Linked DNA regions of Homo sapiens. The protein of the gene in region 6 purifies or fractionates together with the protein of the main gene of each other region. This does not show direct contact. Each region holds a gene or a part of one and is shown on either strand. Other genes may lie near its edges.

Region 1 (3,554 bases), on a different chromosome or scaffold from region 6:
GCGCCTGTAATCCCAGCTACTTGGGAGGCTGAGGCACGAGAATCGCTTGAACCCGGAAGGCAGAGGTTGCAGTGAGCCGAGGTGGTGCCACTGCATTCCAGCCTGGGCGACAAAGCGAGACTGTCTCCAAAAAAGTAACAAAGAAAGAAAGAAAGAAAAAGGACTTTGAGGAGGGGGTTCTCGAACATTGGCAGGGCCCGAAGGCCGGGGGCGGGGCCTGGGTGGTGGGAGGGGGCTTGCCGCCGTGGGTGGGTGTTGACCTTGGCCCGCCACGCCGCCCGCAGCTGCACACGTACCTGGTCCTGGAGCTGCTGCGGGGCGGGGAGCTGCTGGAGCACATCCGCAAGAAGCGGCACTTCAGCGAGTCGGAAGCAAGCCAGATCCTGCGCAGCCTCGTGTCGGCCGTGAGCTTCATGCACGAGGAGGCGGGCGTGGTGCACCGCGACCTCAAGCCGGAGGTGGGCGAGCTGCCTCGGCGGCGGGGCGGAGCGGTGGCGCCGGGGGCTGCCTCTGACCACTACCCCGCCGCCCTCGCAGAACATCCTGTACGCCGACGACACGCCCGGGGCCCCGGTGAAAATCATCGACTTCGGGTTCGCGCGGTTGCGGCCGCAGAGTCCCGGGGTGCCCATGCAGACGCCCTGCTTCACGCTGCAGTACGCTGCCCCCGAGCTGCTGGCGCAGCAGGGCTACGACGAGTCCTGCGACCTCTGGAGCCTGGGCGTCATTCTGGTATGGGACGCGGTCCTTGAGGCGGGGTCAGGGTCGCTCGGACCTGGCGTCTTCCTGATGTGCAGCAGCACGAGGGAGGGGACAGGGGTCATCTTGGTGGGGGCGGCTGGGTTTCGTCCGAAGCTGGGATCGGGGTGGTTCAAATACAGAGGTGGGGTCGCTCTGGTGCTAGAGTCGGAGCATCCGGGTATTGGGGGTTAGAAGTCAGGGTTCACCACGCGTGGGTCTCAGGAGTGCCCCTAGTGGGGAGGGTGAGTGGTTCTGTGGGAGCGGAGGGGTCAGCCTCGGCACCCCAGCCTGGGCCGGCCTCACCTTCCCCTCACCCTCCTAGTACATGATGCTGTCGGGGCAGGTCCCCTTCCAGGGGGCCTCTGGCCAGGGCGGGCAGAGCCAGGCGGCCGAGATCATGTGCAAAATCCGCGAGGGGCGCTTCTCCCTTGACGGGGAGGCCTGGCAGGGTGTATCCGAGGAAGCCAAGGAGCTGGTCCGAGGTGCGGAGCTGGAGGTCATAGACCATGGTTGGGGAGGGGGACGCTGGGACAGGGATGGTCACTGGGCCAGGTGTCCTGGTTGGGGATGGGTAGGGGAGGAGAGTGGGGCTGTTACGATCTCTTTGGGGCTCAGCCTTTACGCCAGGCTCCTCCCCACACTTCCTTGCCCCGCCTCCAGGGCTCCTGACCGTGGACCCCGCCAAGCGGCTGAAGCTCGAGGGACTGCGGGGCAGCTCGTGGCTGCAGGACGGCAGCGCGCGCTCCTCGCCCCCGCTCCGGACGCCCGACGTGCTCGAGTCCTCTGGGCCCGCAGTGCGCTCGGGTCTCAACGCCACCTTCATGGTAAGGGGCAGGGTCTGTTGAAGGGAAGGGGTGGGCGAAGCCTCGAGAGGTGGGGTCTGGGGAGGCCCGGCCATCGGAGCACAGAAAGGCGAGGTGAGGCCGGGCGCGGTGGCTCACGCCTGTAATCCCAGCGCTTTGGGAGGCCGAGGCGGGCGGATCACGAGGTCAGGGGTTCGAGACCAGCCTGAACAACATGGTGAAACCCCGTCTCTTCTAAAAAGAGAAAAATTAGCCGGGTGTGGTGGCGCGCGCCTGTAATCCCAGCTACTCAGGAGGCTGAGGCAGGAGAATCTCTTGAACCCAGGAGGCGGAGGTTGCAGTGAGCTGAGATTGCACCACTGCACTCCAGCCTGGGCGACAGAGGGAGACTCCGTCAAAAAAAAAAAAAAAAAAAAAAAAAGGGAGGTGAACCGAATCCGGTGGTCGGTCTGGAGGCCAAGGCCCTGTCGGCCTTGACCTAGGCGGCTGGAGGCAAGGTCTGGGAATGGAGGTCAAACTAGATCTGGAAGCCGGGGTCAGGCGGGGGTGGGGGCACTCACCCTTTCCTTTCTGCCAGGCATTCAACCGGGGCAAGCGGGAGGGCTTCTTCCTGAAGAGCGTGGAGAATGCACCCCTGGCCAAGCGGCGGAAGCAGAAGCTGCGGAGCGCCACCGCCTCCCGCCGGGGCTCCCCTGCACCAGCCAACCCGGGCCGAGCCCCCGTCGCCTCCAAAGGGGCCCCCCGCCGAGCCAACGGCCCCCTGCCCCCCTCCTAATCCCCACCACTGTGACCCCCTTCCCTCATAGGGGCTGTGACCTGGGAGCCCGGCTCACTCCCGGAGGCCTCTGCCTGCGGCTGACCTGATCCCCAAGGGACTGTCCTTTCCTCTCCTACCCCACCCCACTCCCAGACAGAGCAGAAGTATTTTTATAAGCAGAGAATTTTTTATGTCTTACCAGATAGAGTTGCAGGGAAGGGGGGGCCTGCTGGGGAGTGGGGTTTGGGGGGCCCTCTCCCAGGACACTGCCTCTTCTGGGCAGAAGGCCCCTCCAGGGGGACTGCTCCAACAGGAAAGAGCCCCTCCCCCACTTCTAAGCACTGAGTTAGGAGTGCTAACTCCTAAACTGGGACCCCCTACCCTGTTCTCCCCTGAGGCCCCGTTCCTGGGAGGGGCACCCCTCAACTGTCACTTTATGGACTGTCTGTGCAATTACGTCCACCAAAGACCCGTGTTGGGGGTACTGAAGGAGAGGCCCTGGGGGACCCTCTGAAGCATTTCTGCCTCACTTTATGTCATCTGCTTCTCCCCTGTTGGGGCTAAGGAAGGAGATAGGTGGCTCCTAAAAGAGGAGGCCATCTTCTCACCCACCCCTTCCTCTTTGGCACAGCTACTCCTGGCTGGGGGTGGGGCCTTGGGGGTCTGGGCTGGGCATCCATGGTCACTGCCTCAGCCCAGCCAGGCTGTGCCTTTGACTTTAAAATAAAAGTCCACCCAGTGCTGTGTGTGGCATCTGCGTGTCCTCGTTCGTGTTGTGGGTGTCTAGAGCAGAGATTCTGGGCAGACAGGCTGCTAGCCCGTGGAGTTTGGAACCTCAGTGGGGAGGGACAGGCAGACTCTTCTGGGCAAGAAGATATTCTTTGTTCCTTGACTTTTGCTATGAGCAGGAGGGCGCAACTCTCATCCTGGGTGTATATCCGGACAGCTCTGCTGGGTATCATTTAGGATATTCTTGGTTGTAAATACAGCTGCTGCTTGACTTAGGGTGGACCTACATCCCGATAAACCCAACCTGAATAGAAAATGCTGAAAGCCGAAAATACATTTAATGTCTGCAACACAGCAGACGGTGCCTGACTTAGGATTGTTTGATTTACCGGCTTTCAGCTTTACCATGGTGCCAAAGCGATAGGCTTTCAGTAGAAAACATAAATAAATGGTAAGGAGCTTCCTGACTTACGATGGGATTACCCATCGTAGGTCGGAAAATTCGTGTCAAGCATAAGTCAGTC
Region 2 (3,500 bases), on a different chromosome or scaffold from region 6:
CTCCTCCGAAGGTTCTTATGTGGATACGTACATTTCTTTGGAAACTCAGATTTTATCTAATTAGGGAATTATTACAATGCTTAGAATAAAATCCAGCATTTTTACTTTTTCCCCAAAGGTACAGAATAACACTGTAGATACCAACCCATCACTGTCTTCAGTTTTAACCAGGATTCCAATAATTTCCTAGTTAGGTTTTAAACCTTCCCCAAATATTCCAATTCATACTTACTTGTCTAAACCTTCAAGAGAAGAAGTTCTAAGCACACAACTGAAAGGTCCCTGCAAAAGGCACAAGTCTTGCCAATCCCTAAAACAGTCTAAGCATCGACATTGTATCTACCTGTCCAGTTGACATAGCCAGCTATAAAATGGTTTTAACCGAGGTTCTCCAAGATTTTGAATGCTATAACGTACAGAAACATGAATTTCATAAAGCCTTTAGTCTTCCACTAAGCAAGACAGAAATTTTAAAAATATGCTTGTGGAATATATTGTAACTCTCTATACTACCATTCTAGAAAATAAGTCATCCCAGATCTTGTGCATTATTATGACAAATAATTGGACTGCTCTCAGGTCAGATGAGTCTTCAGTTGCTCATGATTTTAAACTTGTAAATTCAACAAATAGGTTGAATATACTTCTGCTAAATCTAAACATTATGTTTCTCCGAGATAGTGGTCAAATTCTCTCTTTCATACCTGTCAGTGGGGTCTTCAAATATTTTCTGCAGCCCAGAGGAGAGGCTTCCACTGACATTTGGACTGGAGTTATGTTCAGTGAAGCGTCTCAGTTGCTGTTGTATTGGCGTAGGATTAGTCAATGACTTGGTAATATCAGCAAGAACACGAGGGAGAGGCCCCAATTTTGCCACGGTCGCCTGTAGGAAGGAATTTTCACCCTAATTGGATAATAAGCATTGCGACATCCACCACAGATTGTTTTTGGCACAACGATGGCCATTGATGGAGGGGTGTAGGTTGGAGGGAAGGGTAAGTGTTTGCATATGGGAGTGGCAGGTTCATAATGCATTGTTATGGAGCAGCAGAACCATGGCGTCGAGATGAATGGAGGAGGCGAAACAAGGTGCGGCAGACATCGAGGAAAGAAAGGAAATCGAAATCAGGATTATGCAAGTAAAAATTAAAAGACATGCTCAAAACTACCAAACTAATGCCATTCCAACTAAAATAGGCATGCGAAGCAAACTAAATCTTTGGGAGGCTAGTAGATCAAGGTGGGGGAGGGTGGAGGCAGAACCAAATTCCTTCTAACCAAAAGAACTTCAAGATCAGAGGATCAACTAGTATGATAAACTTTCAAAGAAAAGGGATCATGTGAGAAAAGAAATGCATGCCAACATATAAGAAGGTGCTCATTCAGGAATCCAGAGTACTGCAGGGCACACAGATGATACTGCCATCCACTATCCCAGTCAATCTTGGGAACCCTGACCCACTGCCAACTGAGTTTCCATCAGTAAGACAATTTTTATTGTTAATTTAACAGCAAAATCAGGTAAACTTCCTCTATGAGATATGTCTAGATGTATTCCTGGTTCCCAGGACCAAACACAGATTAAAAAGGAGAAAGTGTGTTTACATAGCAAAGCCCGTTAAAAAGACTTTGATCCTGAATAAACCAGGCCCATTTCACAGGAAAACTGAATCTGCATTCCACTGAGATGCAGTTATTCAACAAAGACGAACTCTTTAATACTTGCTTTATCCATTTCAATCATTTTTTTATTTAGGGAATTCTTATTCTCATGGGGTCTTAGGGGTCCCCTTCAACTGTCAGTCAGTTTGGCATAGCTGCCTTTGGGTCTTTGCCTTCTCAACAATCAACAGACTCTTCTACCCTACTCAAACAGGGATAGATGCCACCAAGGCCTTTACTTGCTCAATAATGTTGGGCTACGATTCACATGAAAAGGGTTTATCTTTGGCATAGCTGCAACTTAAAAATCTAGCTAGCATTTCTAAAAGTGAAGAAAAGGTCCTCGAGAATAAGGAACAGTTTATTGTTTTACAAATATTTTAAGCACTGGAGGACACATTACCACATATGTTTCCTCAGCAAAGTGGTCTTTGTTAATAGGTTTTATTCCCCTTCAAATTTTACTGATATAGCATTTTTATTGATAGGAAAATAGAGGAAAATAAGTAGATCATTATCATAGAAAAATGACTGTCTTTTGAAGTTATTCTAACATACCACCACACATATTTATAAAGTGCCTGTAGCAAACAAAAACATCAATAAATAATTATTGTAATAAGCCTAGCCAACGTCTTTTAGACTATTTTTTACTACCAAATCTATTCCTTTTTGTTAAATTCCAGAAGGAAGAAAATGATTGGCATGGTGTATATTTACTTATTAATACGGTATATAATAAAATTCTTAGCAAACGATTAAAAATAATTGCTTTCTGTATTCTTAATTCACATCTGTAAAGAAAGAAAACAATGACTGTTAGCACTAATAATTATATGAAACTCTATGACTTGTATAGTAAAAAAATTTGTTTCATGGGTAGTTACTTAAAACATGATAAACCTAGTATTTTCTTAGCTAAATCTATACTTTTATTAGAAATTACTATATGAGGTTTCATCTTATCCTATTAGACATGCATAAGGCTGTATATACCAATATATTAGTTTCTAGTCAAGTTTTCAGATATGCACTCTGTATATATAAATTTAGAGAAATATACTCCATTAATTCAGATAATTATTAAAAACATATATTAATAATGTCATGGTTTTCTAGAGTTTCATGGTTGTCGATCTCATATTTTACTCAGAAATGATGACCATTTACTCTCAGATTTCTAGGGTAAACAGTTGCTTTCAATTAGCAGAAAGAGTGAGTGCTATCACTCTATAGTTACTTTCCAGAATTCAGGTACATTAAAGTTCTCTATCTTCCACCAACCTACTTTACCTTATCAAGTTGGGAAACTACTTCCCACAGTAAGGAATGCAAAACTGAAAGCTCTCGGCCCAGATCAATGTAACCATCAAAGCCTGGGGTGTTTGAGATGGTGTCTGGATTAGAGATCTCCAAAAGAAAGCGCTTCATTCCACCCCATTCATGTTCTAAAAAATCATTCATGAATGCCATGTATTCCTCTTTGTTACCAAACCTGAAGTAGAGGATGAGAAAATGAGAAAGAACATATTCAAGAGAGATATGATCATTTTGATTTGACATTACACAGAACTATTACTTTTTTTTATTTTGTGGAGGGAATGACTAATTTTGTTTATTATCTATAAGTGATAAATGTTATAACATACTTTCTTAATATCACTTTAATATTCTAATGCTTTGAGAATAGCTTTCTATTCTCTCTAAAGGGTAAAGCCAAAACTCCTTTTTTTTTTTTTTTTTTTAGTTCTGGGATTTAAATTTCTCTGCAATATAGCCCTCACTTACCTACCAAAAGCTCACCAGTACAAACCTTCAATACTGCTAGCTTCTACAAA
Region 3 (3,500 bases), on a different chromosome or scaffold from region 6:
GGCCTGTCATTGACCAAAACACTGTAATGTGGGACATGACTGTATTTGCTTAGTCATGCTTTTTTTGTTGTTTTTTTGTTTTGTTTTTGTTTTGTTTTTTTTGAGACAGTATCTCGCTCTGTCACCCAGACTGGAGTGCAGTCCCATGATCTTGGCTCACTACAACCTCCATCTCCTGGGTTCAAGCAATTCTGCCTCAGCCTCCCGAGTAGCTGGGATTACAGGCGGGCACCACCACGCCCAGCTAATTTTTGTGTTTTTAGTAGAGACGGGGTTTTTCCATGTTGGCCAGGCTGGTCTCGAACACCTGACCTCAGGTGATCCACCCTCCTTGGCCTCCCACAATGCTGGCTGGGATTACAGGCGTGAGCTACTGCACCCAGCTTGTATTTGCTTAGTTCTTTTTTTTTTTTCTTTTTTTGAGACAGAGTCTCGCTCTGTCGCCCAGGCTGGAGTGCAGTGGCTCGATCTCGGCTCCCTGCAACCTCCACCTACTGGGTTCAAGGGATTCTCCTGCCTCAGCCTCCTGAGTAGCTGGGATTATAGGCGCCCGCCACCACACCCGGCTAATTTTTGTATTTTTAGTAGAGACGGGGTTTCACCATGTTGGTCAGGCTGGTCTCGAACTCCTCACCTCATGATCTGCCTGCCTTGGTCTCCTAAAGTGCTGGGGTTACAAGTGTGAGCCACTATGCCCAGCCAGTTGTTTTTTGTTTTGTTTTGTTTTGTTTTGTTTTGTTTTGTTTTGTTTTTTTGAGATGGAGTCTCACTCTATTGCCCAGGCTAGGGTGCAGTGGCGCAATCTTGGCCCACTGCAACCTCTGCCTCCTGGGTTCAAGCAATTGTCCTGCCTCAGCCTCCCAAGTAGCTGGGATTAGAGGTTTGCGCCACCATACCTGGCTAATTTTTGTGTTTTTAGTAGAGATGGGGTTTCACCATGTTGGTCAGGCTGGTCTTGAACTCCTGACCTCAGGTGTTCTGCCTGCCTCGGCCTCCCAAAGTGTTGGGATTACAGGCGTGAGCCACCGCGCCTGGCCACTTAGTTCTTATTTTCACATTCCAATTCCACCTTTCCCCCTCTCTCCCTGAGCTTTCAGCACAATTTTTGTTTTCTAAGGTCATGTTAACTCTGGGTCCTTAGGCCTCAGGCTGTGTTTTCTTGTCATTGCCCCATCACCAGCATCTCTCGTGCAGGGCAAACTGCAGGCTGCAGCACACCAAGCATGTTTTCATTTTGATGTGGCTGTTCTGCTTTGTGTGGGCCCTGCTTCTCTTACCACCTGGTTCTGGTCATTGCAGTGGCCCAGCTGTTGGCCTTTTCTCTTAGCTCATGGTTGAGGTGTGGCCTGAGGGTTTTGAGAGAAAATGATCAAACTCAACTTTGTGTTGTAGGTGCTCTGGGACCTGGAGTTCCCCACATCATCAACACCAAACTGCTGAAGCACTTTACTTGCTTGACCTACAACAATGGCAGGTCAGGGGGTGGTTGCTGGGATTTTTCTTGTGCAGGAGAAAGTAGGTGGGGGTTGGGAGTGAGGAGCAGGGGCTTGGACTCAATTCCATGTCCACGGAGATGCAGTGCTGAAAAGACTGCTGCCATTTGGAAGGCTCCTGGGGCCCCAGTAAGTTTAGCAAATGCTAAATATGACATACTCTGCCCTTCTTAGAAAAGTATTACCTTTTGGGAACCTTAGAAGCTCTGGGAAGTCCTACAATAAAGACTTGTTTTACTTCACATACTTTTGAATAGCCCTTCCCGATGTCTCACAGAGCTGGTGTTCTGCGGAAAGGCAGCATTGCAGAAAAGGGCAGCCCAACTCGGTGACTCTGGGGAAAGACCCGCAGGCCCTGCCCCTGGGCTTCCTTCCTGCCATTTGCATGGCGTGTGTTTTCTGCTCTTGAGTGTGCTTGGAAGAATCAGCACAGCTGATTTCGGGATGATTGTTTTCCCAGCAGCCCTGCTGGGCAGGCGGGGACAGACTCACAGGGCCCTCACCAGCTCAAAGCGCTAGCAGTGCCCAGGTAGAGTGTAGGCCCAGCTTTCTCTATCTGCCTCAGAGGGAAACATGGACTGGCACACTGCTCCACTGTGTGTGAGGCCCAGGAACCTTGGAAGGGCAAAGTCACCCACATTCCTTTTCCTTTCCTGAAGTTGGGAAGACATTCCGTGCATATGAGAATAGGATTGGATGTTCTTATTTTGCTTTTGGAGAAATTGTCTGAGAGTTTAATTTTGTTTCTCCTTTATTGCCACTGATTTTCTAGATTACGGAACTTAATTTCGGATTCTATGAAGGCGAAGATTACTGCATATGTGATCATACTTGCCTTGCACATACATGACTTCCAAATTGACCTGACAGTGTTACAGAGGGACTTGAAGCTCAGTGAGAAAAGGTGAGCACAACAGAATAAAGAGCTCCCTGCAGGGTGTCTCGATGTCTTATTTCTGGTACCACTGGAAAGCATGAGGCACCACCAAGGGAACTGAGGATGTTTAAATGTGGGAACAACTTGGAACTAAAGGACTATTTTCAATGAATGAATCATTGACTGAATGAGCAACTAGACATTACTGAGTGCCTTCTCTGTGCTAGATAAATTATGTCATTATCTCACTGATTTCCCTAGAAAACAATTGAAGAATCAGGCTCAGAAAAGTACGTAACATTCTCAAGGTTACACAACCAAGAGGGGAGTAGTTGGCCTTGAGACCTGAGCCTTTCCATAACATTCTGTTCTGAATAACCAGGCAGCCTCCATTCTCTGAATTGCTGTCACAGGGGAGAGGGATTCTGTATGGTTCTGAGGAGTGCAGCTCAGGGTGGAAGTTGTAGGACAACCCAATTTGAGCTTAGTAAGAAGAGCTTCCTCACAATCAGATGGAAGGGTTTGCCAGGGGAACCGCTGGTTCCAAGGCCAGGTGGAACTGCTGTTTGGCAGGGATTTTATGTTTGCACTTCTCTGACCCAACTGGGAGAGCTGGTGGTGGAGGTGACCTTTTAGGCTCCATCTAGCCTTGTAGAGGAGATTCAGACAGTAGGGGCAGAGCTGCCCAGGAACCTGAACTGTGAGGTCAGCTGATCTTTGTCAGTGATTTAGGGGCATCTGACATCCAGTGGCCCAGAGGGTGTCTAGGAGAGCCTGTGAACACACCTCTGTCTGGACTCTCTAGCAGTCCGTGGAGGGACTGTTCTGAGGGCTGTCCACAAACTGTGTTCCCACAGGCAGTGAGGCTGAAAAAAAGAGAACAGGTACTTGGAACCTGTCAGATTCTAGCAAGTGCTCAATCCTGGTTGCTAAAAGTTTGGTTATGGGAGGTAAAGAAAGTTGCTCACGGGGCTGTAGATACCCTGGTTTTTCATCACCCATATGGATCTTTTGAAGGGCATTAAAATGAAATTGGCTGTCTGATGGTTCCCAGCGGGTGAGGGGACCTTGCCTGCCTCTCTGCCAGGGGCTTTGTGCCTGCTGGCAACCTTTGGGATTCTGTCTTTATG
Region 4 (3,972 bases), on a different chromosome or scaffold from region 6:
AAGGGTAACTACAAAGTGATGACACTTTGTGTGGCTCAGAATCTGTCCTCTTAGGCAGATACAGAAGTGCAGTTCTTTTTGAGTTCTGGTAGCATTGTTTTAAAAGCTGTGCACAGCCTCCTGAGATTGCTATTTTCAAAGGTAGCATTTAGTTGGATATATGTTTGGGTAGGTTTTATTTTTAAAATGCTGTTGCTTTCTAATGACCCCTTATGTTCTAATATGGAAAGGGGAGGCAAAGTATTGTGAAAAGTAGTTGGTAAAGTAGGCCGGATGTGGTGGCTCACACCTGTAATCCCAGCACTTTGGAAGGCCGAGGCGGGCGGATCACGAGGTCAAGAGATCCAGACCATCCTGGCCACATGGTGAAACCCTGTCTCTACTAAAAATACAAAAATTAGCTGGGCATGGTGGTACATGCCTGTAGTCCCAGCTACCTGGGAGGCTGAGGCAGGAGAATTGCTTGAACCCGGGAGGCAGAGGTTGCAATGAACTGAGATTGCGCCACTGCACTCCAGCCTGGTGACAGAGTAAGACTCCATCTCAAAAAAAAAAAAAAAAAGGTAGTTGGTAAAGTTGTTCACATGAACCTTATTTATAATAGTAAAACACTGATTTATAATAATAAAAAATTTGCTATAGTAACAAAAAGAGTCTAGAGTAAGAAACTAGCTGAGCAACGTGGTGTCACACTATACACCCATTAAGACAACAGGCACATGTGTCATGTCCATTTTGTGGAAAAGATATGTAAAATAATTTTAAGTAAAAAAGATAAATATAAAAAAGTGAATGCATACAAAACAATTTCACAAAATTGAATGTTACTCAAAAATCACAGCTCATTTTAAGCTGCACAAAATAGTCATTTTTTTCTTTATAATTGCTCAAATTCATAATCAAACAGAAGAAAGTTCCTGTCTTGGAAGTAGTGCTATGCCCCAATTCTTCCAGAGCCAGTACTTTAAACAATTCCATTTCATTATTTTCCTGTAGACTAATTCTTAGGACATCAGCATATCTCTCTTCAAGCATTAAAAAAATCTCTTTAGAGTCAGTGGATCAATAGACAGTTCCTGTTTTCCACACAACTGAAAGGGTGGAGCCCCCAAACCACAAGGGGAAGAAGGAAGTTAAAAGATGTTAAATACTGGGGCCAGCTCACCCTGGTCAGCCTAGCACTCTGACCTAGCAGTCAACATGAAGGCTCTCATTGTTCTGGGGCTTGTCCTCCTTTCTGTTACGGTCCAGGGCAAGGTCTTTGAAAGGTGTGAGTTGGCCAGAACTCTGAAAAGATTGGGAATGGATGGCTACAGGGGAATCAGCCTAGCAAACTGTAAGTCTACTCTCCATAATTCCAGAGAATTAGCTACGTATGGAACAGACACTAGGAGAGAAGGAAGAAGAAGAAGGGGCTTTGAGTGAATAGATGTTTTATTTCTTTGTGGGTTTGTATACTTACAATGGCTAAAAACATCAGTTTGGTTCTTTATAACCAGAGATACCCGATAAAGGAATACGGGCATGGCAGGGGAAAATTCCATTCTAAGTAAAACAGGACCTGTTGTACTGTTCTAGTGCTAGGAAGTTTGCTGGGTGCCTGAGATTCAATGGCACATGTAAGCTGACTGAAAGATACATTTGAGGACCTGGCAGAGCTCTCTCAAGTCCTTGGTATGTGACTCCAGTTATTTCCCATTTTGAACTTGGGCTCTGAGAGCCTAGAGTGATGCAGTATTTTTCTTGTCTTCAAGTCCCCTGCCGTGATGTGGGATTTTTATTTTTATTTTTATTTTATTTTATTTTATTTTTAAAGACAGTCTCACTGTGTGGCCCAGGCTGGAGTGCAGTGGCATGATCTCAGCTCACTGCAACCTCTGCCTTCTGGGCTCAAGTGATTCTCGTGCTTCAGCCTTCTGAGTAGCTGTGACTACAGGTGTGTACCACCACACCCAGCTAATTTTTTGTATTTTCAGTACAGATGGGGTTTCACCATGTTGGCCAAGCTGGTCTTGAACTCCTGGCCTCAAATGATCTGCCCACCTCAGCCTCCCAAAGTGGTAGGATTACAGGTGTGAACCACTGCACCCAGCCGACATGGGATTTTTAACAGTGATGTTTTTAAAGAATATATTGAATTCCCTACACAAGAGCAGTAGGAACCTAGTTCCCTTCAGTCACTCTTTGTATAGGATCCCAGAAACTCAGCATGAAATGTTTTATTATTTTTATCTACTCTACTTGATTAACTATCTTTCATTTTCTCCCACACAATTCAAGATGTGCCATGAGGAAAAGTTATTTTATAGTTTAGTACATAGTTGTCGATGTAATAATCTCTGTAGTTTTCAGATTGAATTCAGACATTTCCCCTCAATAGCTATTTTTGAATGAATGAGTGAAGGGATGAAATCACGGAATAGTCTTGTTTTCAAGATTCTAACTTGATATCCAAATTCACCTTTAGATATTATAAGAAAATTTCTATCAGAAAATCCTTATGTTTTTCTGATTAAAAAAAGCATTTTTCCATCAGCCTATGTATCTGCTATGAATTTACAAAATCTACTCAACAGCTCTGTTGATTTTTCTGTTCTTGGCTGAATGTTGCCTGAGGGATGGGAGCACGGGAAGGGTAAAAGCAATGGAACAAACATGTATTTTAATATTTTAAAAGTATGTTATATTGTTCGTTGGTGTTACAAGATGATTTGCATTACAAAAGGATTCTCTTACAAGTCCCTTATCTTAACACTAAAGTGCTAAGATATTTTATAAGTAAATCTTTATACTTATAAAACAAATCAGTAAAATAGAAGTAGCTAAGTAGAACTGATTTTGCTATAGAGTATAAGTCACTTAGTGTTGCTGTTTATTACTAAAAATAAGTTCTTTTCAGGGATGTGTTTGGCCAAATGGGAGAGTGGTTACAACACACGAGCTACAAACTACAATGCTGGAGACAGAAGCACTGATTATGGGATATTTCAGATCAATAGCCGCTACTGGTGTAATGATGGCAAAACCCCAGGAGCAGTTAATGCCTGTCATTTATCCTGCAGTGGTAAGACAAGCTAATATTTGACCAATCTGGTTATACTTACAAGAATTGAGACTCAATACAAATGAAAAAGCCTTGAAAGGTTCATGAGGGACCTAGAAAAACTACATCTCAACTTCCAGAAAGTCATTATTATTTTCCTCATAATTCCCTGAGTAAGAAATTAAAGAAGTGGTATCATAAAAGGTTGATGTTTTTTAATATACAGAAGTTTCTGGAATGACCTATTAATTTACTGTCAATGGCCTTACTGATGCTTTGTCCAGAACAATGCCATTGCTCCTGCTTACTTTGGGGAGGTTTTGGGATAATTTAGTTGTATGGTCCTTTTTCAATTGTTTTACTTTTTTTTTTATGAAATGTTCTAAATGTATAGAAAATTAGAGACATTAGTATAATAAACAGCCATATGCCCATTATGCACTTTAAAAGTTGTTAACATTTTGCCATAGTTGCTTCTTCTATGCCTTTTTTTTTTTTTTTTTTTTTTTTTTTTTTTTGCTGAGAGTTTTTTGTTTGGTTTTGTTTTGTTTTATTTTGAGACAGGGTCTCCCTGTCCCCAGGCTGTAGTGCAGTGGCACCATCACAGCTCACTGCAGCCTCAAGTGATCATCCCACCACAGCCTCCCAAGTAGCTGGGACTACAGGTGTGCACCACCATGCCTGGCAAATTTTTGAAATTTTTAGTACAGGCAAATTCTGTGTTGCCCAGGCTGGTCTTGAACTCCTGAGTTCAAGCAATCTTCCCACCTCAGCCTCCTTAAGTGCTGGAATTACAGGCGTTAGCCACTGTACCTGGCTACTGCTGAGAGACTTTTAAGTGAATTAGGAACATGATGATATTCCATTTCTAAATTCTTTAGTTTACATCTTCAAAAAATACAGTTCCTGTAGAATTATTATTGTAAATA
Region 5 (3,500 bases), about 30 Mb from region 6:
GCTCTTTTTTTAACATGTCCAATCCTATTTTCTCACTATCTTCAGGACAAAATTAGGGGAAGATTCTTCTCTAGTCCATGTATATGTATACGTACATATAAAAACTTAACTCTGCAAGTCTTTTTAACTTTTGGCTGGGCGCGGTGGCTCACACCTGTAATCCCAACACCTTGGGGGGCCGAGGCGGGCAGATCACCTGAGGTCAGGAGTTCAAGACCAGCCTGGCCAACATGGTGGAAACCTGTCTCTAATAAACATACAAAAATTAGGCCAGGCACGGTGGCTCACGTCTGTAATCCCAGCACTTTGGGAGGCCGAGGCAGGTGGATTATCTTAGGTCAGGAGTTTGAGACCAGCCTGGCCAACATGGTGAAACCCCGTCTCTACTAAAAATACAAAAATTAGCTGGGCGTGGTGGCAGGCGCCTGTAATCCCAGCTACTCGGGAGGCTGAGGCAGGAAAATTGCTTGAACACAGGAGGCGGGGGTTGCAGTGAGCCGAGATTATGCCATTGCACTCCAGCCTGGGCGACAAGAGTGAAACTCCGTCTCAAAAACAAAACAAAACAAAACCAAAAATTAGCCGGGCATGGTGGCGGGTGCCTGTAATCCTAGCTACTCGCTACTTGGGAGGCTGAGGCAGGAGAATCACTTGAACGGGAGGCGGAGGTTGCAGTGAAGTGAGATAGCGCCACTGCACTCCAGCCTGGGCAACAAGAGCAAAACTCCATCTCAAAAAAAAAAAAAATAATAATAATAATAATTAATTAAATTAAATTAAAAATACGATTAATGCCTGTAATCCCAGCACTTTGGGAGGCCAAGGTGGGCGGATCACTTGAGCTCAGGAGTTCAAGAACAGCCTGGGCAACATGGTATAACACCATCTCTACAAAATATTAGCTAGGCATGGTACCATGTGCCTGTGGTCCTATTTACTCAGAAGGCTGAGGTGGAAGGATCGCTTGAGCCCAGGAGCTGGAGTTGCAGTGAGTAGAGATCGTACACTGCACCCCAGCCTGAGGGACAAGAGTGAAACTCCATCTCAAAAAACAAAAAAACCCTAATAAAAAGATTGAGTGCCTAATCTGCAAAAGACCACCACCAAATAGTGACTGCCTACCCTCTCTTAAGGTCTCCATGCAGTTCCCATGCGTAACACTCACTACTTTTGGAGTTTCTAATCAAGGAAAGGGTGCAGTTTGAAATGGCAATCCCAATACCCTGAAATTGTGATCACATCTCCTGAGGGACAAGGACCCCTCTGCCCGTGTGAGAACCATCCCTTATATAAAGTGATTCTTCACAGAAATCCCTCAAGTCCTGCGCTGCTCTAATGCATGTAAGGTGTGGAGAGCACTATTCACAGCACCATTCCAGCTCCAAGGCCACCACTGAACTACCCACATGACTCAAGCTCTTTCTGTCTCTAGCGCTTTACCAGCAAAACCAGCGCAACCTGTATGCATGGTAGCTCAGAGGGACACTGTGACAATCAACAAAGAATGGCAAAACAAAAAGCAGCTCATCTAGGGAAGCAGTACTGCATGTGGCTAAGAGCTGGGGTCACCATGTCGTCACTAGGCCTCGGTCCTATGGAGGCTACTACCTACACGCTTACAGCTTTAAAAGAGACTCTTAGGCCGGGCGCGGTGGCTCACGCCTGTAATCCCAGCACTTTGGGAGGCCGAGGCGGGCGGATCACGAGGTCAGGAGATCGAGACCATCCCGGCTAAAACGGTGAAACCCCGTCTCTACTAAAAATACAAAAAATTAGCCGGGCGTAGTGGCGGGCGCCTGTAGTCCCAGCTACTTGGGAGGCTGAGGCAGGAGAATGGCGTGAACCCGGGAGGCGGAGCTTGCAGCGAGCCGAGATCCCGCCACTGCACTCCAGCCTGGGCGACAGAGCGAGACTCCGTCTCAAAAAAAAAAAAAAAAGAGACTCTTAGCACACAGTGAGGCAATGATGTATTTTTCTACCAATAATTTTATTGAGAAGGGTAGAGAGGGGGACTGATTCACTCCTAGCCTTCTACTGTTCAGGCTTTAAAACTAGCAAACCAGAGCCAAGGCTGAGAAAACCTAGGCATCATAATCATTACAGACTAGCAAAGGGACAATTTAGCTTTCAACCCTATGACTGCAAAATATGGTAATGGGGAAGTCCATTGGAGAACCCCCCCTCCCAAAAAAACAAGCAAGCTAATCTTTGCAGGCTAGTATCTCTTTCCCTAACCAGAATAAAATCAAAGAGCTGAGTGAAAGCAAAGGCCTGGCAGCATGCATTCAAATAATCCAAAACCCTGTCTTCTAATCTTGAGCTCACAATCTGACGTGTCTCCAAAATCCTTTTTGAATAAACAATCACTCTTTAAAGTACAGCAAACACTCAAATGCATTGTATAGAGAATCTGATTTAAATAAAACAATTCAAACGGCTGTTTACTGAGTGGTTACCAAGGTAGTATCATGAAAGCAGCAAGCTGCCTGGGAGTCAGGAGGGCCTCCCCTGGAGTCTTTAGGTCAGGTTCCTGAACCTGGGTTTAAGTGTTTAAAACGAAAGTTTTCTTGATTGTCAAATGGAGTCAACTCTAACAGTACCTCCTCAGGAATCTACCCTAAATATATATTTTTATTTTTATAAATAACCAATCCATCTGTTTCTTATTCACCCACAAAATTACTCAGGAAGGGGCCAGGTGTGGTAGCTCACGCCTATAATCCCAGCACTTTGGGAGGCCAAGACGGGCGGATAACGACGTCAGGAGATCGAGACCATCCTGGCTAACAGAGTGAAACCCCATCTCTACTAAAAAAAAATATTAAAAAAATTAGCCAGGCATGGTGGCGGGCGCCTGTAGTCCCAGCTACTCGTGAGGCTGAGGCAGGAGAATGGCGTGAACCCGGGAAGCGGTTCACGGAGCTTGCAGTGAGCTGAGATCGCGCCACTGCACTCCAGCCTGGGCAACAGAGCGAGACTCCATCTCAAAAAAAAAAAAAAATTACTCAGGAAGGGGAGCAGGTTAAGTCATTTATTTTATATATGATACTACATTTAAAAAAATTTTAAAAACCTATACATTCCCCTAAAATGAACTTTTTTTTCCCTGACTATACCCTAACTCTGAATCTTTGCTGACTTTAATTGGAACAGACTTCTCATCAAAATTAAGCAAATCCTATTCTCACACCCAGGAGAGAAGTAACTGCAAAACAAGATTTCCAACCTGGGTTCCCAGATCAAGCTTGCTAGCTCACTGCATTTGTGGTCTACTGCACACTCCACTCCTGGTAGAGAAAGAATTCCAAAGAACCAAGTTTCTATTTTTCTCCTGTCTCTCAAAGGCTTTCAAGATAAAAATCCAAATTCACTGCCCATCAGCTGGCTGCCAGTGCTCCAACCTTAAAACTCTATAGCAACTTCAGTGTTCTTGTTTGTTTGTTTGTTTGAAGAAGGAGTATCGCTCTGTCGCCCAGGCTGGAGTGCAGTGGCCCAATCTC
Region 6 (3,210 bases):
AGAGGCAGGAGAATCGCTTGAACCCGGGAGGCGGAGGTTGCAGTGAGCTGAGATCACGCCACTGCACTCCAGCCTGGGCAGCAGAACGAGACTCCATCTCAAAAAAACAAAACAAACAAACAAAAAAAGAAAAAGAAAAACAAAACCAAAAAGAGAAACCATATGACCTACAAAGACTAAAATAGTTATCTGGCTCCTTACAGAAAAAGTTTGCTGACTCCTGCTGTAGGGTTGATAGTTTACAACTTTAGGTTATCATGGGCTACCTTAAAGTGATATTATGCCATTTCACATAGAGTAAAAGAAATTTATTTTATTTTATTATTATTATTTGAGACGGAGTCTCACTCTGTTGCCCAGGCTGGAGTGCAGTGGCACGATCTCAGCTCACTGCAACCTCCATTTCTCAGGTTCAAATGATTGTCCTGCCTCAGCCTCCTGTGTAGGTGGGATTACAGGCGCATGCCACCATGCCTGGCTAAATTTTTTTTGTATTTTTTGTAGAGACAGGGTCTCATCGTGTTGGCCAGGTTGGTCTCAAACTCCTGACCTCAAGTGATCTGCCCGCCTTGGCCTCCCAAAGTGCCAGGATTACAGGTGTGGGCCACCGTGCCCAGCATAATGAACTGTTTTAATATTCTTGTTTGCAAATTCTAACATCTCTGTCATTTCTGGGTCAGTTTCAATTCACTGATGGTTCCTATTATGGATCATGTTTTCCTGCTTCTTTACATGCCTGATAATCTTTGGTTAGGTGCCAGACATTGTGAATTTTGCCTTGTTAGTCTGGAGAATTCTGTATTCCTATAAATATTCTTGAGGCCGGGCGCCGTGGCTCACACCTGTAATCCCAGCACTTTGGGAGGCCAAGGCGGGTGGATCACGAGGTCAGGAGTTCAAGATCAGCCTGGCCAACATGGTGAAACCCTGTCTGTACTAAAAACTGCAAAAATTAGCCAGGTGTGGTGGCACGCACCTGTGGTTCCGGCTACTCGGGAGGCTGAGGCAGAAGAATCGCTTGAACCCAGGAGGTGGAGGTTGCAGTGAGCCACGATCGTGTCACTGCGCTCCAGCCTGGGCGACAGGGCAAGACTCTCTCTCAAAAAATAAAAATTAAAATAAATAAATAAATAAATAAATAAATAAATATTCTTGAATATTATTCTGGGATGGAGTTAAATTACTCGGAAGTAGTTTGAGTCTTTCCAGTTTTGCTTTTATGATTTGTTAGGTGGGTGTTGAGCAGTGCCCCATCTACAGTTAATTATTCCCCACTATTGAGGCAAGACCTTCCTGAGTATCCCACCCGATAGCCTGTGATGATGTTTTTCCAGCCTGGCTGGTGGGAACACTCACTATTCCTGGCCCTGTGTGAGTAACGAGCACTTTTCTGAAATCCTTTTGGATGGTTTTCCCATCCCCACAGACTCACAGGCATGGCTGATCCGTATTCTCCGGAATACACAAGAGAACCTCCTGCAGTTCCCCAGCAATCTCTCCTTTGGCAACTCTGTTTTGTACTCTGTCCTGTGACTCTAGCCACGCTGGCCTCCACAGACTCTTCCTCCATATCCATCTCCTGACCTCAGACAACCTGATGCGCTCTGCTTGGATTCCCCTCTCTGCACCGTGGCTTTGAAACTCTCTCAAGACAATAAGCTGTGGCAGTCAAGTGTGGGGCCCACCTCGTGTTTCCTGTCTTTCAGGGGTCACTGTGATTCATTGCACGATGTCCAGTGTCTTCAACACTGTTGCTTCATATACCGTATTTCGTCTGACTCTTGTTTGTTTGTTTGTTTGTTTCACGTGGGAGTGAATTCTGGTCCATGTTACTTCATTTTGGGCAGAAGTGGAAATCCCACTGAATAAACATTGATTCCACGAATTTGCTGATGAAACTCTGACCTCTGACCTCCCAGATAGCTGACAGGGGGTTCCAGAACTGTGGTCACAAGGCCTAGCATACAGTAGGCGCCCCATGTTTGTTCAATGAAGGAATGCAAGAGGACTTGAACTTTGCCCTCTCACCCCGGTCTTTGTCCCCAGGGCACTGCACTTGGCTGTGATTCATCAGCATGAACCCTTCCTGGATTTTCTTCTAGGCTTCTCGGCCGGCACTGAGTACATGGACCTGCAGAATGACCTAGGCCAGGTGAGCCACGAGGGATGGTGTAGGGCTTGGGGTCCAGGGTTCCCAGTGTGACTCCCTACCGCCTGTCCTCTGCTTCTGCAGACAGCCCTGCACCTGGCAGCCATCCTGGGGGAGACATCCACGGTGGAGAAGCTGTACGCAGCAGGCGCCGGGCTGTGTGTGGCGGAGCGTAGGGGCCACACGGCGCTGCACCTGGCCTGCCGTGTGGGGGCACACGCCTGTGCCCGTGCCCTGCTTCAGCCCCGCCCCCGGCGCCCCAGGGAAGCCCCCGACACCTACCTCGCTCAGGGCCCTGACCGTACTCCCGACACCAACCATACCCCTGTCGCCTTGTACCCCGATTCCGACTTGGAGAAGGAAGAAGAGGAGAGTGAGGAGGACTGGAAGCTGCAGCTGGAGGCTGAAAACTACGAGGGTGAGGGTCGTCACCAGGGAAGGACTCAGCTCCTGGGCTAGGCGAGAGCACCTGGCCCTGGGCTCAGCTTCCCTGATTTGAGACTGAGCTCCTTGGGAAATCATGCCTAGGCTTCAGGAGCCCACACATCGGGACCAGGGACCTCCACTCAGGGCCCAGATGATTGAGAATTGGATATGTAGGACCCAGGACCCCCACCTGGAGGCCCCAGGTCACTTGGGATGCAGACCTGTCACCCACAGACCCAGAGCTGCCAGGATCCAGTTGTCGGGCCCCCGGGCTCCCCACCTGCAGAGTGTATTGCAGACCCCTACCCTACCCAGGACCGGGGAATGCAGAGCTCAGGCCCTCTGTGAAACTCTGGCACCCCAGGCTCCCAGCAATGGGCAGCAGGGTTCAGAGACAGCCCTCCTCAGCCTCATGGGAAGAAGGGCTCATCTGCCCACAGCCCTGACATCCAAGTTTCTGCTCCCCTGCCTATAAGCCCAGCCACCTGAGACCAGACCCCTCCTCAGATGGACTGACGTCATTCAGGACCCAGTGTTCAGGGCCTGCCTCTCGCCCCCAGGTCACAGGCTTTTCAGCTACTTGGTACCTTTTTTTTTTTTTTTTTTTTTTTTGAGACAGTCTCACTCTGTTGCCA
Region 7 (3,114 bases), 6.1 Mb from region 6:
AGGCTGGGCAAGTTGGGAGCACAGTGGTCCAGATGTCCTGGCTTAGCTGATGTCCCCCGTTTCCTGCCAGAGGACATATCAGTGGTGTTCAGCAGGGCCTCCTGGGAAGGTCGGGCTGACTTCTCCCAGGCCGACGTGCACCGCCAGATTGCCATTGTGTTCAAGACGCCGCCCTACGAGGACCTGGAGATTGTCGAGCCCGTGACAGTCAACGTCTTCCTGCAGCGGCTCACCGATGGGGTCTGCAGCGAGCCATTGCCTTTCACGTACCTGCCTCGCGACCATGGTAACTACAGCAACCCAGGGTGACCCACCACCTCGGAGACTAGGTCTTTGGCCTTGGGGAGACCCCAGTGGGGATGGGAAAGAGGCAGAACTAGAATGCAGGCTCAGAGCTACAAAGACAGTGTTCAGATCCTGGCTCTGCTGCTTACTGGTTGTGTGACCTTGGCCTCTCTGAGCCTCATTCTTCTGTGCAAAATGGAAATAATAGTAGCTGTCCTGTGACATTTGGAGAGTATTTAATCTTTCCTCCCCTCAGCATCCTGCACATGCCCGGGCCTGTGCTCGGTATTGCTAGAGACACAGCAGTGACCAGCACGGCCCCTAGCTGTGTCCTCATGAGGCTTATAGTCCTGAGGATAGGGGACAGCCTGTCCCTACAGAGTGATGACCAGAGTGGGCAGGACTGGAATGAAGTGCTCAAGGGCTCACATTGCCCAGAGGGGGTACCTGACCCAGCTGTAGGTGTCAGGGAATGCTTCTTGGAGGAGGGGACAGCTGAGCTGAGGACAGGAGGATGACTAAGCAGGGAAGTTTTCTAGGGAAATAGTGAGAGTGGAGGAAGAGTGCTTTAAACAGCTGGAACAGCAGGTGCAAAGGTCCTGAGGCCGGATTGTGCCTGGGGTGCTCCAGGAACAACAAAGAGGCCAGTGTGTAGGCCGGGCGCAGTGGCTCATGCCTGTAATCACAGCACTGTGGGAGGCTGAGGCAGGCGGATCACCTGAGGTTAGGAGTTCGAGACCAGCCTGAACAACATGGCGAAACCCCGTCTCTACTAAAAATACAAAAATTAGCCGGGCGTGGTGGTGGGCGCCTATAGTCCCAGCTACTCGGGAGGCTGAGGCAGGAGAATTGCTTGAACCCGGGAGGCAGAGGTTGCAGTGAGCCAAGATTGTGCCATTGCACTCCAGCCTGGGCAACAGAGCAAGACTCACTACAGGCACCCGCCACCATGCCCGGCTAATTTTAGTATTTTTAGTAGAGACCGGGTTTCGCCGTGTTGGTCAGGCTGGTCTCGGACTCCTGACCTCAGGTGATCCGCCCACTTCAGCCTCCCAAAGTGCTGGGATTGCAGGAGTGAGCCACCACGCCCAGCCAAGACTCCATCTTTAAAAAAAAAAAAAATAGGCCTGGCACAGCAGCTCACACCTGTAATCCCAACACTTCGGGAGGCCAAGGCAGGCAGATCACTTGAGGTCAGGAGTTCAAGACCAGACTGGCCAACATATAGTGAAATCCCATCTCTACTAAAAAAATACAAAAATTAGCTGGGCGTGGTGGCGCACACCTGTAATCCCTCCTACTTGGGAAGCTGAGGCAGGAGAATCACTTGAACCTGGCAGGCAGAGGTTGCAGTGAGCCAAGACCGTGCCACTGCACTCCAGCCTGGTCAACAGAGCAAGACTGTCTCTAAAAATAAATAAATAAATAAATAAATAAAGGAATTAATTATTATTGATGAATTACTTCTTGTGTGTCCCTGGTATCTCCTTAACAGACAGCTACGGCGTGGACAAGAAGCGGAAACGGGGGATGCCCGACGTCCTTGGGGAGCTGAACAGCTCTGGTGTGTGCCCTCTGCCCCTTTCCACCCCCATCCCCAGGTTCTGGGGAGGGGACAGCTGACCCCACTGCCCTGTCCCACCCCAGGCTGGGGAGGAAGGGCTGTCGGGGAACAGGGGTCCTCATCTCTGCCTTCCCTCAGACCCCCATGGCATCGAGAGCAAACGGCGGAAGAAAAAGCCGGCCATCCTGGACCACTTCCTGCCCAACCACGGCTCAGGTGGGTCCCAGCTACACATAAGCCCCTGTCCCCTGGGTGGGCAGAGGGTAAGTGGCAGCCCTGCTTTTCTGGCCTCTTCACGCCCTCCAAGAGCAGCCACAAGGCGAGTCACTCAGCACTTAGCCAGCAACATAGAGTAGAAAGAATGAGGGCTTTGGAGACAGAATGGAAGTTCTGATCTCTTCTGGGCCATTTCCTTGCTATGTGAACTTCATTAAGTTGTTCTACCTCTCAGAGCCTCAGGGACTCCTTTGAAAAGGCCCAGTACATACTTAGCTCAGTGGTGTTTTAAAATTTGATCTATTTCTTCTTTCTTTTTTTTTTTTTTTGGAGATGGAGTCTCGCTCTGTCGCCCAGACTGCAGTGCAGTGGCATGATCTCAGCTCACTGCAACTTCTGCCTCCTGAGTTCAAGCGATTCTCCTGCTTCAGGCTCCCAAGTAGCTGGGACTAAAGGCATACACCACCACACCTGGCTAATTTTTGTATTTTTTAGTAGAGACGGTGTTTTACCACATTGGCCAGGCTGGTCCTGAACTCCTGACCTCAGGTGATCTGCTTGCCTCAGCCTCCCAAAGTGCTGGGATTACAGGCATGAGCCACTGCATCCCACCTATGATCACATTTAACTGCATTTACAGCAAAACCCAAAATAACAGGGGCTTCAACAGGATAGAACGTTATTTCTTGTCTCACATACATAGTCTGTAGGGACTGAAAGTGGCTCATGCCTGTAATCTCAGCACTTTGGGAGGCTGAGGCAGGTGGACTGCTTCAGTCCAGGAGTTTGAGACCAGCCTGGCCAACGTGGTAAAACCCTGTTTCTACTAAAAATACAAAAATTAGCCGAGTGTGGTGGTGCACACCTGTAGTCCCAGCTACTTGGAGGCTGAGGCAGACAAATCACTTGAACCCAGGAGGTGAAGGTTGCAGTGAGCCAAGATTGCACCACTGCACTTTAGCCTGAGCAACAGAATGAGACCCTTCTCAAAACAACAACAACAACAACAACAAAACAGGCCTGGCACTGTGGCTTACGCCTGTAATCCC

What was found.
Region 1: the proteins of NFKBIB (region 6) and RPS6KA4 purify together in Homo sapiens (affinity purification with mass spectrometry; one large-scale study listed by BioGRID and IntAct). This does not show direct contact.
Region 2: the proteins of NFKBIB (region 6) and RASAL2 purify together in Homo sapiens (affinity purification with mass spectrometry; 2 studies listed by BioGRID and IntAct, with this or other methods). This does not show direct contact.
Region 3: the proteins of NFKBIB (region 6) and POLR1E purify together in Homo sapiens (affinity purification with mass spectrometry; 5 studies listed by BioGRID and IntAct, with this or other methods). This does not show direct contact.
Region 4: the proteins of NFKBIB (region 6) and LYZ purify together in Homo sapiens (tandem affinity purification; one large-scale study listed by IntAct). This does not show direct contact.
Region 5: the proteins of NFKBIB (region 6) and HNRNPM purify together in Homo sapiens (tandem affinity purification; one large-scale study listed by IntAct). This does not show direct contact.
Region 7: the proteins of NFKBIB (region 6) and RELB purify together in Homo sapiens (affinity purification with mass spectrometry; one large-scale study listed by BioGRID and IntAct). This does not show direct contact.

The regions. Positions count from the first base shown.
Region 1 is NC_000011.10:64,369,162-64,372,715, forward strand, and holds the end of RPS6KA4 (ribosomal protein S6 kinase alpha-4), read left to right. Parts: intron 1-284; coding exon 285-458; intron 459-537; coding exon 538-732; intron 733-1,063; coding exon 1,064-1,223; intron 1,224-1,401; coding exon 1,402-1,565; intron 1,566-2,121; coding exon 2,122-2,319; 3' UTR 2,320-3,054; downstream 3,055-3,554. UniProt on the Homo sapiens protein: Serine/threonine-protein kinase that is required for the mitogen or stress-induced phosphorylation of the transcription factors CREB1 and ATF1 and for the regulation of the transcription factor RELA, and that contributes to gene activation by histone phosphorylation and functions in the regulation of inflammatory genes.
Region 2 is NC_000001.11:178,454,104-178,457,603, reverse strand, and holds part of RASAL2 (ras GTPase-activating protein nGAP), read right to left. Parts: intron 3,158-3,500; coding exon 2,956-3,157; intron 905-2,955; coding exon of another isoform or gene 884-904; coding exon 705-883; intron 1-704. UniProt on the Homo sapiens protein: Inhibitory regulator of the Ras-cyclic AMP pathway.
Region 3 is NC_000009.12:37,499,448-37,502,947, forward strand, and holds part of POLR1E (DNA-directed RNA polymerase I subunit RPA49), read left to right. Parts: intron 1-1,392; coding exon 1,393-1,474; intron 1,475-2,265; coding exon 2,266-2,397; intron 2,398-3,500. UniProt on the Homo sapiens protein: Component of RNA polymerase I (Pol I), a DNA-dependent RNA polymerase which synthesizes ribosomal RNA precursors using the four ribonucleoside triphosphates as substrates.
Region 4 is NC_000012.12:69,347,209-69,351,180, forward strand, and holds the start of LYZ (lysozyme C precursor), read left to right. Parts: upstream 1-1,172; 5' UTR 1,173-1,200; coding exon 1,201-1,336; intron 1,337-2,899; coding exon 2,900-3,064; intron 3,065-3,972. UniProt on the Homo sapiens protein: Lysozymes have primarily a bacteriolytic function; those in tissues and body fluids are associated with the monocyte-macrophage system and enhance the activity of immunoagents.
Region 5 is NC_000019.10:8,447,975-8,451,474, reverse strand, and holds part of HNRNPM (heterogeneous nuclear ribonucleoprotein M), read right to left. Parts: intron 1-3,500. UniProt on the Homo sapiens protein: Pre-mRNA binding protein in vivo, binds avidly to poly(G) and poly(U) RNA homopolymers in vitro. Involved in splicing.
Region 6 is NC_000019.10:38,902,969-38,906,178, forward strand, and holds part of NFKBIB (NF-kappa-B inhibitor beta), read left to right. Parts: intron 1-2,046; coding exon 2,047-2,152; intron 2,153-2,233; coding exon 2,234-2,567; intron 2,568-3,210. UniProt on the Homo sapiens protein: Inhibits NF-kappa-B by complexing with and trapping it in the cytoplasm.
Region 7 is NC_000019.10:45,032,464-45,035,577, forward strand, and holds part of RELB (transcription factor RelB), read left to right. Parts: intron 1-70; coding exon 71-286; intron 287-1,780; coding exon 1,781-1,849; intron 1,850-1,987; coding exon 1,988-2,065; intron 2,066-3,114.